2 separate regions of the Homo sapiens genome follow, and region 2 is linked to region 1. The links come from fine-mapping of genetic effects on plasma protein levels. A gene starts in region 1. The other region holds a variant in brackets. All regions are shown on one strand. Distances are from middle to middle.

The links. A credible set is the group of variants that fine-mapping cannot tell apart. PIP is the posterior inclusion probability: the model's chance that the variant is causal. Sun 2018 read protein levels with aptamers (SomaScan).
Region 2: its variant is the best candidate, but not a certain one, in a credible set for the plasma level of the ISLR2 protein (Sun 2018, PIP 0.59).

The regions. Positions count from the first base shown.
Region 1 is chr15:74,122,950-74,131,499 of GRCh38, reverse strand. ISLR2 (immunoglobulin superfamily containing leucine rich repeat 2) reads right to left here and starts at 914. Exons shown (of 3, transcript NM_020851.3): 1 at 879-914; 2 at 184-293. LOC283731 (a long non-coding RNA gene) reads left to right here and starts at 2,222. Exons shown (of 3, transcript NR_152622.1): 1 at 2,222-2,535; 2 at 2,876-3,484; 3 at 3,767-5,127. RefSeq lists a silencer at 98-297 and enhancers at 1-698, 699-1,608, 8,536-8,550, 8,291-8,550.
Region 2 is chr15:74,313,317-74,321,928 of GRCh38, reverse strand. The region is part of intron 11 of CCDC33 (coiled-coil domain containing 33); the gene reads right to left. It overlaps CCDC33-AS1 (CCDC33 antisense RNA 1), which reads left to right and starts at 2,237. Exons shown (of 2, transcript XR_007064711.1): 1 at 2,237-2,409. RefSeq lists enhancers at 1,893-2,803, 6,037-6,136. The variant T/A (reference allele first, on the strand shown) is at 3,991.

The DNA of each region.
Region 1 (8,550 bases):
TCCCACAACTTGTCTTTGGGAACCTGCTCCTTCACTCTGCCTTTGCTCTTCTGGGAGGGTCCCTTCCCTCCCTTCCCGGTTCCTGCCAGACAGCACCCCCACCAGCCCCGCACCCCATCAGGTGCCCTAGGCTGGACCTAACCCCACCTGGGTCAAGGTTGTGGGGTGGCCCCCATTGCTTACCCAATATTCGCCGACTCTCAGTAAATGTCCTGGGGCTGAAACCCCTTCTCCAGACCCGGCGTGGCAGAGCAGGGAAGATAGCCCAAGCAAGATACACGCATGTGTTGTGGCTGTGGGGAAAACGGGGGGCGGGGGGCAAAGAAAGGGACAGGTAAGTTTGGGGACTTGGTGGCCCCAAAGTACCACTTCAATTTTTCCTTTTGCGTCCGTTTCCCCCACCTCTCTGGCTGCAGGTTGGAGAAAGTCCTTGCGCACTCCCGGGCCTGGCGGGGACGCGCATAGCCTCTCCCGCCTCCTGCTTGGTCTACTTTTGTTAAAGCCACGGAGACCCTCCCCAAGGCCAAGACACGTCGGTCATAAGGGGCATCCCACGCCCACTGTCCTGGCTGGGCTCTTCGCAGCCTACTGCACCCCCATAACCCACGTACCCCCACATTTACACAGCCGCTGGCATTGTTACTGTCCCTGATCACACCACCTCCCCCACCCCACGTTCAAACACATTCGCGCACACAGTCCCTCACACCCTCCCCATAGCCGACCTTCACAGTTTACAATCATCCATGGTCAGGTAATAATCGCATCAATGTGTTCAGCCCCTGCTACATTCACACGCATTTTCACGGGCACACCTGCACCCGGGACACTTACCGTTCTCCTCTCGCACACGCATACACACATTCACGCGAACTCACCCTCACGCGCCTGTCCCGCCAGCGCCCGCGAGCTTCGCTGCTAATTGAATGCAAGCCGCTTTTACGCCCTGCAACACGTGAGACAAACCATCTTTGAGGAATTTGGGGGAAGGAAAGGCGCGCGGCTGAAGTGGGGGGGGAAGGCGTGTCTTTGCCTTTAAACTCTTTTTGCAAATGCAGGCGGTGGCACCGACAGACTTCGAGCGGGACCCGCTGAGCTGCGCGCAGCCGAGCTCGCGCGGACCCTTCCCTCCCGCACCCCCCGCTGCTAGCCGCCTCCTCCCCGAAGCCACGTTCAACATGATGCATAATTGATAGTGTTAGCAGAGCGCCGCACCCTCCCTACCATTTTTGCCTGGATCTGGGCTGATATAAGCCCTAGTCTCCCCCGCCCCGCCGCCCCAACCCCCCCGCCCCGCCTGCTAGTCTAACCCGACACCAGAACGCACAGCCCTGCAGGGCGTGCTGGGAAGGGACACCCCCCTCCCCAGCCCACCGCAGCCCTGCCCAGCCTCTTAAGCCGGAACTCTTTACTTCTGGTCTTTTGTGGCTAAACCAGCGCTTGAAGCCCACTGCCCGACGCGTTGGCCTGCGCGCACCGCGGGACAGGTGGAGCAGGGGGAAGCTCTCTCGAGCGCACCCAAGCACCTCACTCCAGGTCTTGCCTGCTCCAGGAGAACGGGGCACGGAAGCTGCAGCAGACAGTAGCACAGACAAGGATGGTGGCAAAACGTCCGCTACTCTTGAGCACGGTGGGCTGGGGACTTCAGGCCCGAGCATTTCTCCCATATCTGCCCCCCATATCTTCACAGCCTCTCAAGCAGACACACGGTCAACCCCACACGCACTATCCCCCAAGCCGCGGTGGCCCCTCACCGCCCCGCCGTCTCACACCCTCACACAACAGCCGGCTTCGGCAGACTCGCTGTTCCCGACTGTCGCTCCCTAGCTCTGATGAAACCCCGACATTTCTTTCAGCGACGAGGAGGCGGAGGCGCGGCGATGTCGAGGCATTTGGCTAAAACCCGGTTTCCGCCCCCCTGCGCTGCCCACGTTAGCCCTGGAGACAGCTACCGGCCATAACCAGGAAAGGGGTTCAGGCTCCGGGAGACACGCAGAATCCCCACCCATTCTGTAGCCACTGAGCTCTCTGGGAGCACCAAGCCCCACAGCCATCACCCCGGGCCATGGGGGTCTCTCGATGGCGAGGGTTTGGGGCTTCCGTGGAGATCAATACCCCGATTTGAGTGTTGAGCATCTTAATGAGCTAGGGGAGGGGGTGGGGAAGAGAGACAGGCTAAGAGCGCAGCGTCTAAAGAGACCACCCGGCCCGGGGTTCCGAGGCTGCTTTGTAAATTAAATATGAACAGACTGGTGCGCTCACACTCCAAGCGTCCCTCCCTCTCCCCTACTCCTGCCGTCGCTACGGGCGGCCCAGCGGGCTGAGACCATCGCATCTTGCTCAGCCCCAGTTCAGAACACAGAACTTCACACCGCCTGCTCGGGCCTGGAGTCCCCCCCCGCCGACCCATGGGGAGGGCGCAAGGCGCCTTTCAGGGAAGGTGTCTTCGAAAATGGTCGAGGGGTGAGAGCACTGTGACCCGTCCCTGCCGGGGATCCTGTGGTGGGACAGCCAGGATTGGGTCCCTAGCCCGGGGTGAGTCCCTGAGGTTTCTAGGCCTTGTGGGGTCGGGAGAAGGAGGCAGACGGCGGGGCCAGCACACCCTTCTTTGTCTGCCGAACAAGGTGGGGGTGGGGGCGGGGAGCGGCGTCTTGGGCAGTTGTCCGGGTGTTGGGAACCCTGAGGGGGCGGTCTTGGGAGCCTGTGCCTGGGAAGGATATTTGGAGGCAGGGGCCCAGCAGCGGGAGCTGAGTCCGGTCCGGCATGGCGTGTCCAGGGGACTTTTCGGGACTGAGTGAGGGGCGCCAGGCGGGGAGGCTCAAGGCCCTCCGCCGGTTTTTACCTATTTTCTTTCTTTCTTTTTTGCCTTCCGCAGGGAGGCAGAATCTGGGTAATGGAAGGGAGAATGGGCTCGCTATCTGCCCAGAGCTTCCCTGGACTGCAGGAACCCGTCCTATAAGCAACCCCGAAACTTCGGGGCCCGAGGACCAGGGAAGACCCCCTTTCCTTGCTGTCTTGACAGGGTTGCAGAAGCCAAGGAGTTCGGCAGGGAGACGGGGCTCCTGGGGTGGTTAAGGACGCGGTGACCACCCCTGGGCGGGAGCTGACTCCCGCGGGCCCGGAGGCTCTAGCTCACTCTACAGCAAATGCTTTTGTTCCCGGAGGCTGCCCTGGGGGAAAGACGCCCCTTACCCCTGCCTTCGACCCTGGAGAGCCCAGTGCCCGCCCGGGCAGGGCTGGAGCCCGAGTCGCCCCAGGCAGAGTCCGCCGAGGCCTGGGGTGGGAGCCGCGACTTCTGGATCTGCCTCCGAGCTCAGCTAGAAGACTGCGCGCACCTCGTCCGGCGCCGTCCGGCGCGCAGAAGCGGGTCTAATGTTTATAACGTTAATAATGACAGTTAGGGAGGGCTGTGGAGCCGGGAACCAAGACCTCATCCCGCCGCCGCCCACGTCTTTGATCATTAAAGAAACAGACAACTAATCAGGTGTGTGGAAGTAGGGGTGGGGGAGGGGAGGGTGACAAGGTTCCAAGCCGCTAGCGCAGAGGGTCCCAGATTCAGAATCTGCCGAATCCAGACTAAGGCTTCTAACCAGGCTGGAGCCGACCCCAGACAGACCCAGGAATGGAGAGCTGGAGCCCCTGGCCGCTTTCTGCGGATCGACCCTTAACTTCAACGTCGCGAACCCGGAGCGTCGGGAGGGTGGGGAGGGTTGAAACCGGTTGGATCTGGGGACTTGCTCCAGCGACTCCATCCGCGCTGTTCTAGGGCCCAAGCCTGGTCCGCGCGCGCCCCCTGCTGGAAGCCGCTTGCCGGGCGCAGAGGCGGGTCAACGGCAGAGGGTGCTGGCTGGGCGAGGAAGATGTGGCTGGAACCCTGCACCAAGGCGACCGCTGCTCACGGCTCTGCAGTCCCGCGGCGCGATACGCCAGTGGGGCGCGCTTAACCAAAGTCCCGAGGCTTTACTTCCCGTGCCCACCCAGTCTATGTCCCAGGTATCAGCAACCTCTGGTCCACTACACAACACAGGCGCTGTCCCTACTTCGCGCTGCGTAGTTTCCAGTGCCCAGGGCGTCTCCTAATTCTTGAGCGACTAGTCCCTGGCACAAAACCTTCCTATACACCTCTCCCACTCTCCCTTCTCTCTGAGTCTTATGACTTTGTCAGGGGCCTATTAAAATAAATGTCTGAGATCTGGAAAAAAAAATCTGTTGGCGCTAACAGGGGCAAAGAAAACTGCAAAATTGGAAGTAATCGATGTTTGATTGAATGTTTAAGACATGCGACATTGTGCAAACGATTCTGTTGCAACTGCACTCAGAGTTGTACTTGCCCTTGTATTTTAATGTGGCACGCGGAGGATTTAATGGACTTGCCTAAAGATGTGGGAAGGGCCTCTGAGAATAAGAAAGCCGGGGCCCAGATGGGCATCAAACATCCCCAGCATAGCAGCCGGTTAAGGCTGCGGAGACCTTCCCCAAGGCTGCCCTCCAGTCAGAAGCCCCTGAACACTCACTACTTCCCATCTTTCAGCTTCTGCGCGCACAGACACACACACACACACACACACACACACACACACACACACACACACACACACACACAAATGTTCTCTCCAGCCCCACACCCTCAAGAAGCTGCTTTCCTTTTCTAATTTCCAGTCGAAAGATCACTCCTCAGGGAAGCCAGGCCCTGTTTATACTCCCTCCTCCGGCCTTTCCTTGTACAGGTTCTATGTAGTCGTCAGGCGGGCAGGTCCTAGCGTCAGACTCCATTATGTACTGACTGTGTGTCCTTAGCCAAGCTATTTAACCTCTCTGTGCCTCAAGAAAAAAAGGCATAAATAAGAGTACTGACCAGGCGCGGTGGCTCACACCTGTAATAATCCCAGCACTTTGGGAGGCCCAGGCGGGCGGATCACAAGGTCAGGAGTTCGAGACCAGCCTGACCAACATGGTGAAACCTCGTCTCTGCTAAAAATACAAAAATTAGCCGGGCGTGGTGGTGCATGCCTGTAATCCCAGCTACTCAGGAGGCTGAGGCAGGAGAATCTCGGGAGGCAGAGGTTGCAGTGAGCCGAGATAGTGCCACTGCATTCCGGCCTGGGCGACAGAGCGAGACTCTGTCTCAAAAAAAAAAAAAAAAAAAAAAAAATACCTATGCTTTTCGGTCACCTTGAGGATTAAATGAATCAATGTACGCAAAGCACTTAGTACCTGACACTTAGTGCTCAGTACTTGAGATACGTTTTTTATATAATAGCTGAATTAGCCATTATTATTGCCTTGCAGAGTGGGACACAAGTTTGATAAAAGGTTCTGCTGCACACACCCCTACAGGCTTGTGTCCTGCCTCCTCCACAGGGGAGCACCTTGGCTCTGCCCCCAGACCTCTTCACCACCACCACCCCCTTTGCACACACACACACCATGGGTATATGTAGAAACCAGATTTACTATTATTATTTGTAAAGGTTTCTAGTTTCAGATACTTAGACTGATGCTTGTCAGCATGCCTGTTTGCAAAGAGAGACCCGCAACTGCAGACTTGGTGGAAGGTTTTTAATTAAAACTACATTCTGTTTAAGTATTTATTGGACTTTGTGACTTTAATTATTTTCTAGGGAAAAACAAAAAAATCCACATTTGCCTATGAGAAGACTGTTGATTTCAGAGGAAAGTAGCAACCTGTTGCAGTTTGCTGGAGGCAACTGAGAGGAATTTTCTGAATGGTTCAAATGAAGCTCGACATTATTAATAATCTGGGATCCAGCCCATGACCCTCCTCCCAGCATTTTCATGAAATTAGCTTAACGTACTGGCAAGGCCTTTTATTGCCATCAAAATTAACAGCAGCTCTTCCAGTGGCAGCTCATGTAATTATCTGGGTCTGTGCTTGTCTCACTGAATAAGAGGAACTCCTGCCTGGAAGAGGCGATACTCCTGCATTCAAAGGGGAACATGGCTGAGCAAGATGGCTCATGCCTGTAATCCCAGCACTTTGGGATGCCAAGATAGAAGGAATATTTGAGCCCAGGAGTTTAAGACCAGCTTGGGCAACATAGTCAGACCTCATCTCTACATTTTTTTTAAATTAGTTGGGCGTGGTGGCACACAACTGTGGTCCCAGCTACTCTGGAGGGAGACTGAGACCAGAGGATCGCTTGAGCCCAGGAGGTCGAGGCAGCCATAAGCCATGATCACACCACTGCACTCCAGCCTGGGCAACAGAGTGAGACTCTGTCTCAAAACAAAAACAAAAACGAAAACAAAAAACAAAACAAAAAAACACCAAAAAACAAGTAAGGGGGGCGGGATGCAAAATGCTTGGCAATCCCACCCCAATTCAGGCAGGACTGGTTTCCCCAAGAGATTTTCTGAGGCAGCCAGCTCCTCCGTGGCAGGACTTGCCATGGTAAAGGGTAGGGCCGGGTGAGGCAGGGGAGTGGGGGCTGGGGATGATGTGTAATATTTCCATCGGCAAATAACAAGATTCCCACCCCCAAGGATGGAAAGTATTAAGTGTATCGTCTCACAAAGCAGGAAGCAAGGCTGGCTTCCCGGCTGTTGATTCAGCGGCTCAGTGACATCAGCAGTTGCAAGTTCTTTCATCTCTCCCCTCTGCCACCCTTAATAGGGCTTCCAGCCCAAGGACTGGGTCCCTTGGTGCCTTGGTGTCACTGGAGGGCTTCCGGAGCCACCAAGGAAACATACCTATTGTGTTTTTTGTTTTTTTTTCTTTTTAGATGGAGTCTCACTCTTGTTACTCAGGCTGAAGTGCGGTGGCACAATTTTGGCTCACTGCAACCTCCACTTCCTGGGTTCAAGTGATTCTCCTGCCTCGGCCTCCCGAGTTGCTTGGATTACAGGTGCGTGCCACCACACCCCGCTAGTTTTTGTATTTTTAGTAGAGACAGGGTTTCACCATGTTGGCTAGGCTGGTCTCAAACTCTTGACCTCAAGTGATCCTTCCGCCTCAGCCTCCCAAAGTGCTGAAAATTACAGGTGTAAGCCACTGTGCCCAGCCACAAACGTAATGTTAACAGACTAGTGGGTTAGAAAGACAGGCTTCTCTTTTCCGAAGCCACAGCCTCTCCCCTGGGTCTTGACACCTATTGTCATAGGACTGTTTATCTCTGAACCAGTCACTGGTGAAGGGGATGAAACTGATTGGTTCAGAATAATTATCTGGCCCTGATATGGCTATAGAGGAGTCAATCCCAAGGCTCACTACAAGCAAGAAATCCCTTTTAAATAGAAGGATTGGGGAATTGCATGTTCAGAGTAGCCTAATATTGTATCAAAATGAATTGAAATGAGAATGACCAGGATTATAATGGACCATACTAGATACTTCCTTATCTGGAGTTTAGACCAATCTATATCCACAGTCTGAGATCACAGTCAGGGTCAGGGCAGTGTGTGTGACCAACTTCAGGAAACTCTGGTAGGCATACAAACCAGAGGATTCTTTGCTTTCACAGAATTCTTGGATCGATTGATTTATTTTTATACTTATTTATTTATTTGGGCTGAGGATCAAACTGTATTGTCCAGCTGGCCTCAAATCCTGGGCTCAAGTGATCCTCCTGCCTCATCCTCCCAAGTAGCTGTGCCTAGAGGCACACATCGCACCCAGCTCTTTCACGGAATTCTTGAAAGGATAAAAATCTGTTCTTGGAAATGCCTGTGCTGGGATCCAAAGCTATTTTGGGAGCAGTGGAAGCTTCAGTCTTTAGTCGGATATTTATGAACAGGAGATGTTTATGAACTCAAAGATGTCCCTATATGACTTCACATCCTGAACATGTCTCCCAGTCCCATGGCAGAGAAGAGAGGCACTTTTACTGTTGAGGTGGAAAACAGGAGGAATAATTCTACCTTGGTCTTAGGAAAAATGTGGGGCAGTGCAAAGTGGGGCAGACCACACTGGGCTTGGAGCTCCACAACCTGAAAGCTCACTCCAGCTTCACAAACTCTCTAAGTGGTCTTAAGCAACTCCTTGCCCTCTCTCCTTCTAGGTTTCCACCCATGCAATGGTAGGGGAATGGGCTAGATGTGTGTCTTGAGGCCCTTGGGTGCTGTGGCCTTAGAAGAAGCCAGTTTGCAGGTTGAGTTGGGGCTTTTGGGCCGCAGGCTGCCATCTGACAGGGCTTCCTGCAGGAAGACACCCTCCTTGGGAGCCTGGGGTTGTGGCTTCCTCTCTTCCTCATGGCCCTTGGCAATTTCTGTGTCTCCCCTCCCATCACACTGCAACCCGCCTCCCGCCTCATCTCTTGAGGCCCGCTTGGGTCCCAGGAGCTAGCCCCTCCCCCAAACTGCTGTGCACTGCTCTGTGGGCAGAGGGAGTCTTCCTGCTTCAAAACACTTACCAAAGGCTCTTTCCATAGCAAGATTCAGGGGCGGTTGGGGCACTGCTATTTGAGGTTAAAATCTGATCACTGAATATTTTGGGAGCCTGGCACATTGACCAGGAAAGAACAAGGCTGCCACCCCTTCCTGCTCTGCAACTCTCAGTCCTCCATTCCGTGGGGCCATCACAGGACACAGAAA
Region 2 (8,612 bases), 190 kb before region 1:
ATCTGCCAAGGGCCACGCACATGCTCCCCCTTCAGCTCCTAAAGACCTTGATGGCAGGGAAGGGCCTCCCTGCCTCCCTGACTTACTCAGGCAAATCCTTTGACCCAGACCCTGCTCCTGCCAGATTTGCCAAACAGAACTCCTGTAGGTGTCCTTTGAATGTCAGAGAGGTCTCTCTTGGCTAATCTAAATTTCCCAATACTTTTAAAGGGAATTAACCACATTTCTTGGCCCGGTGCGGTGGTTCACGCCTGTAATCCCAGCACTTTGGGAGCCGAGGGGGGCGGATCACTCACGGTCAGGAGTTCAAGACCAGCCTAGCCAACACAGTGAAACCCCCTCTCTACTAAAAATACAAAAAGTACACCGGGCACAGTGGCTCATGCCTGTAATCTCAGCACTTTGGGAGGCTAAGGGAGGTGGATCACCTGAGGTCAGCAGTTTGAGACCAGCCTGGCCAACATGGTGAAACCCCATCTCTACTAAAAATACAAAAATTAGCCAGGCATGGTGGTGGATGCCTGTAATCCCAGCTACTTGGGAGGATGAGGTGGGAGAATCGCTTGAACTGGGGGGCAGGCGGGGGTGGGGCGGAGGTTGCACTGAGCTGAGATCGTGCCTCTGAACTCCAGCCTGGGCAACAGAGCAAGACTCCATCTCAAAAATAAATAAATAAATAAAATAAGATAAAATAAAATAAAGCGAATTAACCACATTTCTTTAAAATACAATGGAAAATTCAGCTGGCAAATTGATGCTGGCCTCCTCCAGTTCCAGAGACCAGGGAGCAAAAGCCCAGTTCTGAGGGGCCGTCTCAGGGACAAGTCGGGGAGGATGGAGGTTGTGCCTGAAAATTTGCTGAAAGGGACTAGTGTTTTCCCAGGGGTTGGGGCTCACCATGGCTAAGAAGTCCCCTTACTCCCAGAAACACACGGGCCAATGCCACTGGGACCCTGGCCTCTCAGTTCTTTGCCACTGCCCACCCAGCCAAGCTCCCTTCCCAGCCACTGAAGGACAATAGAACCCACTGGCCATGAGGACAAGCTTCTTTCTTTCCCTCCATTCACTCTGGAACCTCATCACCACCAGAGGGCAGGCGAGGGAGGACTGAGAGCCTCATTGGCTGGGTGGGATATCGAAGCGGCAAGGGCATAGCCCAGTGGGAGAGGCTGCGCTCCTGAGACACAGAGGGCAGGGTTAGGGAGGTGAGGGCAGGGTGGTCTGTGCGATGTGGCATTGCCCTGGGGGTGGGAGCCTGGAGGAGGCAATGGCACTGGTGGGTCCCCTTCTCCACCTGTCACCACCCCAGGGTGGCCCCAGCTTCCCAAACCCCATTTTGGACTCTGGCATATATCTCCCTTCCACCTGCTCCCCAGCAGGGCCTGGCAGCTGCTGTTTGTACCCCTAAGCTCAGCTCTGTTGGGGGTGGGGAGACCCTGCACTCAGAGAGTTCCCGGTGGGAGGCAGGCCTTGTGTGGGACATGGCTCACACCCTAGGAGTGCAAGTCAAGGCCAGGGGTAGGGTTGGGGAGGGGATCCTGCAGGGGAGGGGTGGAGCTGGGCCTTTGAGGTGCAGGTGAGATTTGACTGGATTGGGTGGGACTTCAGAGGTGGGGAACACTGAGGGAAGGTGTGGAGGCCCATGTGGGCTGGGCTCTTTGGAGGCAGCAAAGTACACAGGTCTGTCTGGCTAGAGAGCTGGAGCAGGCCCACCTGTTTGCACCAGCCAGGCCCGGAAGCTCTGCTTCTGAACAGAGCGCAGTGGGGAGTCACAGGAGTTTCTAGAACCAGGGCCCTGCTCACCCCAGGTCTCTGCTCCTGGTTCCCCTCGAATGTCATCTGGGCCTCCCAACCACAACAAATCTGTGCAAATTGCTGTTTAAAACAGACTTCCTGCTCCACAGAAGCTGCCCTCCCAGGGAGGGGAGGCAGTTGCTTCTTTGTTCAGCCCAAGGTTATGGCAAAGAAACAAAAGGAGTGAATTTTCCCTTTCTTCTGTTCTTTCTTTCCCTTCCTGCTGCAGCAGAGATGATGCCTAGAAAGCTTTTGTGCTTGGCTTGGTGAAGCTTGGAGGGGTGGCAGGGCCTTGGCCGGCAGCTGACCTCAGCCCCTGTCTAATTGGCCCCTGCAGGAGCCAGGTGCTAATTGGGCCTGGCTGGGACAATGGAGACCGGCTGGGCTGGGGTGGGGGCGGGGCTTCCTGGAAGATGCTGGCTTCCCATTCCTACTTCCCCTCCTAGGCTTTTCTGAACGCTGCCTGACCCTCAAGGCTCCATTCTGGGCCCTCCTCCTCCAGGAAGACCCCCGGGCTATCCCAAGACAGGCCATCAGTCATGACTCCTTGGGTATTGGGCCAGAGTCCAGCCTCTGCTGACAGCAGATTGGGGCCAGCCCTTGCTCTCAGCCCAGGTGAGTACAGGGCTGGGCATTCAGCAGGTGGTGAGGGGCAGGCCCCAGTCCTGGTCTCACAGGCCCTGTTCACTCTTCCTCAAAGAACCCTTCCCCACTGGTCACCTCCTGCCAGAATCCTCCCTGGTTAGAGCTTTGCTGCCTCAGGAATGCCCCACATTGGGTGGGGGAAGAGCCCTGGCTGGAACCCAGAACCTTGGGTTCTGATCCAGCCTCTGCCCACAGCTGTCGAACGACCCGAAGCGAGGCCCTTGCCCACTCCGTGCCTGCTCATCTGCACCCTGTGGGGAATGACCCTTGTTGGGGTTGTCCTCTGGGATTCTTGCCAAAGGGGAAGAAGAAATGCTTTGGCAACTGGGGCCCAAACCAGAAGGGTTAGCACTTACTGGGGCGGCCCCAGCCCCCAGTCTGAGCTGCTGCTTCCACTGGATGCCCCATCTGCCACACCCACTCCTCCTCACAGCTCGGCACCACACATGCACTACCAGCAAGCCTTCCCAGGCTAGCCCAGGCTCAGCCACTTTCTAGGATCCAAGGCTGGACCTCCAAGACACCAGAGGTAGGGCCCAGACTAGCAGGAGGCAATGATCACTTCAAGGGATTTTCCCAGAAGCCCTTCTGTCCTCCCTCTCTGGATTACTGTGTGGGCTCAGGTGGCCTAGGCTGGAGCCAGGGGCCTTGCAAAAGATTCCTGTGACCACGGGCATCTAAGGGCCAAAGCCCTGGTCCTCTCCACCCTGCCTCCCACTTAAGAGGCTCTGGGAACACCTCTACTGGTTGCTGGGCAACACACCCCAACACACCTGCTGCTAGGCGAGCCAACCCATCTTCCCAGAACCAGTGGGCGAGGGGGCGACTTACAGAGAAGCTGTCAATGAGGCCTGGGGCAGCCTTGGGGGCTGGAGGGGATGGGGGCCCTGGCTCCCCCATCTTTACTGCTAGCAGTCCTGTTCCCCAGGATGGGTCCCCAGGGACTGTTGCTACAACAAGTGCCTGCCTGGTGACCAAGCCCAGCCCTGAGCTGGAAGCAGGCAGGCCCATGGGGCCACTTCCCCTTTGTTCCAGGGTGGGGGGTGTCTGGGTGGGGTGGCTGAAATCATGCAAGGTTCACTCCTTGGCCACAGAATTGTATGGAGACAGCAGGGCCGGGGAGGGCTGTGGGGCCCTTCAGGGCTCCGGCCTTCTGACTCCCCTGGCCCAGGCTCAGAGTCCCTCCTCCCTCACCTGCCCTTGGCTACACCTTGGTTCCTGCCTCCCCCTCAACTCCCTCCGCTCTTCTCCACTTTCTCTGCCTCCTGGTTACCCCCATACCCTGTCTCCCCTTTCTCTCCCACTGAGCCTCACCCTCTGTCCCTGAGTCTCCTCCTCCCCCTCCCCCTTAGTCTCTCTGCTCCCTGATTCCCCCTTGTCCCCTCAGGAGTCCTCCCCACCCCGCAGCAGCACAAGCTGGGCTCACTCTCCTCCCTGCAGCTGCAGTGTGGCTTAGGGCCCCACGCCTGGTCCCTGGGGACTTCCTCTGGCTGCTTTCCTGATGCTCTGGACAAATTCCTTTCTCTTTAGTTCAGCGGAGACATGGGTGGA[T/A]GTTTTTGAAAGAAACTCACTGGGAAGCAAAAAAAAAAAAAAAAAAAAAAACAAACCCAAACAAGCCAGCCCGCCACCTAGAAACGGCCCTGGTCATGAAGGCAGAATGTCTGATATAACTGGCTTCAGCCTGGGTTGCGGAGACCCCCTCCTGGGGCATGGAGGGGCCTGCCTGCCTTTCCCCAGCTGAACTGGGTTCAGCCTGTCTGTCCCAGACAAGCTTGGTCCCAAAGGCTTTCATGATAGGGCCCTCCACCTGGACCTAGCAAGATGCTGACCAGCACTGGGACTTCATAAATATTTGTTTACTTGTTTAATGAATGAATAGATGACTTACAGTGTTCTTTGGGGCCTCAATGGTGGCACAATAATAATCCCTGACTGGACAAGCCAAGACAGTCACCTCTACCCGTTTCAAAATCTCCACCCCTGCTGCTGGGTGCCCAGCTCAGCACTCTGCACAGGGTTGGGGGGCCTCTGGCTTCTGCCGGTGTTGTGGAGGGCGCTTCCTTTTCTCATTTGCAGGCCTCATGTTTCACTTACTCTTTTTCTTTTTTCCTTTTTTTGAAATGGAGTCTGGCTCTGTCTCTTGCTCTGTCTCCCAGGCTGGAGTACAGTGGCGCGATCTGGGCTCACTGCAAGCTCCGCCTCCCGGGTTCATGCCATTCTCCTGCCTCAGCCTCCCGAGTAGCTGGGACTACAGGTGCCTGCCACCATGCCTGGCTAATTTCTTGTATTTTTTTAGTAGAGACTGGGTTTCACCGTGTTAGCCAGGATGCTCTCGATCTCCTGACCTCGTGATCCACCTGCCTCAGCCTCCCAAAATGCTGGGATTACAGGCATGAGCCACTGCACCTGGCCCACTCCACTTTTTCTTAATGGGGACACTTCCTCTGAACAATAGGGACAAGTAGGGGAGTGGCACAAGACAATCCCCATACTCCTATTAGTTCTTATTTGAGTGGGCCTGGTGAAGTGGAAAGATAGTGGGCTCTGTTACTAAGCAGCTGTGTGACTTTGGACAGGTCACTTAACCTCTCTAAGCCTGTTTTCTCCTCTGTAAAATGGAGTGCATCACTGTGCCCATCTCATAACGCTGTTGGGGATTAAATGAGGCTGCGAGTGTACACGTCCGAGCAGCGTCTGGCATATAAGAGTGGCTCCAGAAATATTACTCCCTCCTCTGTGCAACTCTCATGAGGGGCTCTGGAGGGTCTAGCACCCCTCCAGGGAAATGAAAGGGAGGCCCGTGGTGGAGTCGGCCATCCTCCCTGGATGGCACCAGTCACTGGCTGGCACTGAGATGTGGGCCTTAAATCTTCCTGCTCCTGCCCCTCAGCCTCCCCACCAGGGAAATGGGTGTGTGCCCCCTGCTATCCCCAAGATCCTGGGGCAAGAAGCCTCCCAGACCAGGCTTCACCACCCCTCCCTGCAAGGGGCCCTGTCCTCCCCTGCCTGCTGTGCGCCAATCGATTGAGTCTGCTCCCATCCTCGGGCGTGCCATGAATTTTTCATCAAAAGCCTGTAGACTTTGGGAAACGCACAATTAGAAGCCCCATCAATAATGCACTACGCAGAGGCATGCACTGAGCTCAGCCTGGCCCCAGACATGGCAGTCTTCCAGCCCTGCTCTGGCGGGAGGCTGGAGGGGCGCCCCAGCGGACCCTCAGGGACCCATCACCGGACATAGAACAAGTGTGGGCTGCTGAGAGGGAGGGAAGCCGCGCCCTTGAGGGACTTGAGCCTGCCCCATGAAGCCAGGGAGGCCCCAGGGGCTCCCGCCTGGTCTCAGGCATTTCATCTATAAAACGGGTGCTCAAGAGCCCCCACCCCTGCCCCTTGCCCACCCCTTATCACTGGGTGAGACACACAAGACAATTACTATGTGAAGACTAGGGCAGGGCTCTTTGTGGAGCTAAGGGATGTCCTCCTTCAGGGGGTCCCAGGAAACAGGGCAGGTGCCTGGCTGGAGTGGGGAGGGAGAGGAGGGCAGTACAGAGATGCCTGGTGGCATTGGGGCTTTATTCACACTTCCTTCCCCCAGCTTGGCGGTCAAGGTCCCTGTGGTCCTGCTCCTGTCCCCCTCCCCCTCCACACTTAATAGTGCAGCTCCCCTTGGACCAGCCACTCCCACGCCAGCCACTTCCTGTGGCCTCAGAACCTCTGGGGGAACAAACAGGTTCAGTGCATCCGGCCTCTGTGCCTTTGCTCACGCAGTTCCCCCACCTACAGGACAGAGTCGCCTTCCCCCATCTCTGCAGATCCATTCTGCAAAGCCCACCTCCTAACAAAAGACTTTCCTACTCTTCTTGGCTTCCTTTCTGAATTTCTAGAGCCTGCACCAGGCAGGTAACAAGAGCTCACCATAGGCTGGGCACTGTTCTAACTACCTTAAATAGATCGGCCTAACTTCACCACCAGTCACCTGATGAAGTAGCCTTCTCCATGTCCATTCCACAGAGGAGGAGAGTGAGGTATGAGGAGGCTAGGGAAGTTCTTGGAGTGGGTGAGCTGGTTCCAGAGTCTTCACCACCACTCCGGACCCTGGGGCTGGCTCTCCTGTCCTCAACTGGCCTTGGCCTTGGAGTCCGCAAGGGCAGGGCTCATGCTTCATCACTCATCAGGGCTGGGATCTCCCTATTGCAGGGCCAGAGGCTCAGCTGAACTCAGGGTGGGGCACGCAGGATGTTGATAGCCATGCTTAGCTGCTGGTAGGAGAGGCCTCCCCGCAACTCGAGCTTGAAGCTGGCCTAGCCAGAAGGTCCAGATGCCTCCCTGGTCCCCTGCAACGGCCTCCACTGAGCCCACATCCCATCTCCTGGAGTCGCACAGTTGCTCTGCTCCCCTTACCCCTGCTGGCTCCAGGTCTGGCTCATACATTCTGAGGCTGTCATGAATGCCCTCACTGCCCGCAATAAAACCACCGCATCAGACACACGGGGGTGGGGGATGGGAGGCTCCTGGGCTGAGGTGGTTTTTGCTGTTGCTTTTGGCAGGCTGTCAGACTTCTCTGGGCCCTGCCTGGCTGTGGGCTTCTGCTGCAGCCTAGGAGGGGGCTCGTTGGCACCTGGGGTTCTGTGCCCCTGCACATGGGCCATGTGAGAGCAGAGATGCCAGCTCCCGGAGGCGGGACATGTGCTGAGGGAACACAGCCCTCCATTTCCATTTCTAAAACTCTCTCCTGGCAGGAATGCTGCTGGGCCTGAAATACAAATGGAACTGTACCCCTCCTAACCCCCAAATCCCCACCCCAGGTGCTCCACCACAGCTTGGAGCTGTCTGCAGGAAAGGGCTCGTCATGATGCCAGTGATGTTCACAGAGGGGCCCTGGGATGGGTCCAGACTAGGGGGCTGGCAGGGGGAGGGTGGGCAGAGAGCTTGGTTAAAGCCCCCTGCTCTGTGCCCCCCACCCCTGAAATGTGTGTTTGCATTTTGCCCTAACTGAATCCACTGTCTGCCTTGAGGTCGCCATGACCCTATAAGTGGGCAGCCAGGGTGGCAAGAGTGTGTCTCCTTCCATCTCTAGGGGAGGGGTGAGCACTGCCTTTCCCCCACCCAGGCCAAGGACTGAGGTCCTCCCAGTTCAGGATATACTCTTTGGCAGGCCCACTTGGCCAGGCCCTGTGGTGGGCACTGGAGACACAGATGTGGCCAAGGCTTGGGGTCTCTGTCCCCAAGTAGCTTGTATTCTAGTCGATGTGAGAGCAGGCAGTGTGGCATAGTAAATCAGTATGGCAAATGCAGTAGCGGGGGAGCCCCCCAGCCAGCCCCCTCCTCACCCTGGGGTGCAGGCAAGGGTGTATTGGAGGGTATGTCAGAGCGGGAGATGGGTTTTGAAGGATGAGTAGGAGTTTGTCAGGTGATACAGGCATAAGGAGGAGACACAGTCCTAGCACAGGGAACAGCAGGAGCACAGGTGTGGAGGTGAGCAGCAGCCTGGAACACCGTGGGAGTGCAGACAGGACACGCGGCAAGGAGGGGCTGGTAGGAGATGAGACTGGAGCGGCTGCAGGGTTCAGTCATGGGACCTTGGATGTAAGTCCAAGGCCCAGCTGTCAAGCCTGTTATAGGCAGGCAAAGTGGACTGGGCTGGGCCTGGATGCTGGCACCAAGCATGCTTGTGACCCTCCCAGAATAAGGTCTGGTTGCATTCTAAACAAATCCAATGTGCTATGCAGGACCCAGAGCCCAGACAGGGTAAGAAGTTGCCTAGCACTTCTGTGGCAGGGCCAGCTCAGCATTCATAGCCCTCCGGGGTTAGAAATCTGTGCTGGGCTAATCACCTGAGGTCAGGTGTTCGAGACCATCCTGGCCAATATGGCGAAACCCCGTCTCTACCAAAAACATAAAAATTAGCGGAGCATCGCGGCCAGCACCAGTAATCCCAGACACTTGGGAGGCTGAGGCAGGAGAATCGCTTGAACCCGGGGAGGCGGAGGTTGCAGTGAGCTGAGATCGCGCCACTGTACTCCAGCCTGGATGACAGAGTGAGACTCTGTCTCAAAAAAAAAAAAAAAAAAAAAGAAAGAAAGAAAGAAAGAAATCTGTGCTGGGGTTGGAAGGGACTGAGAGGCCTTCTGGAAGACAGAATGACCCAGAGAAGAGTAGGCTGGGATGTTGGC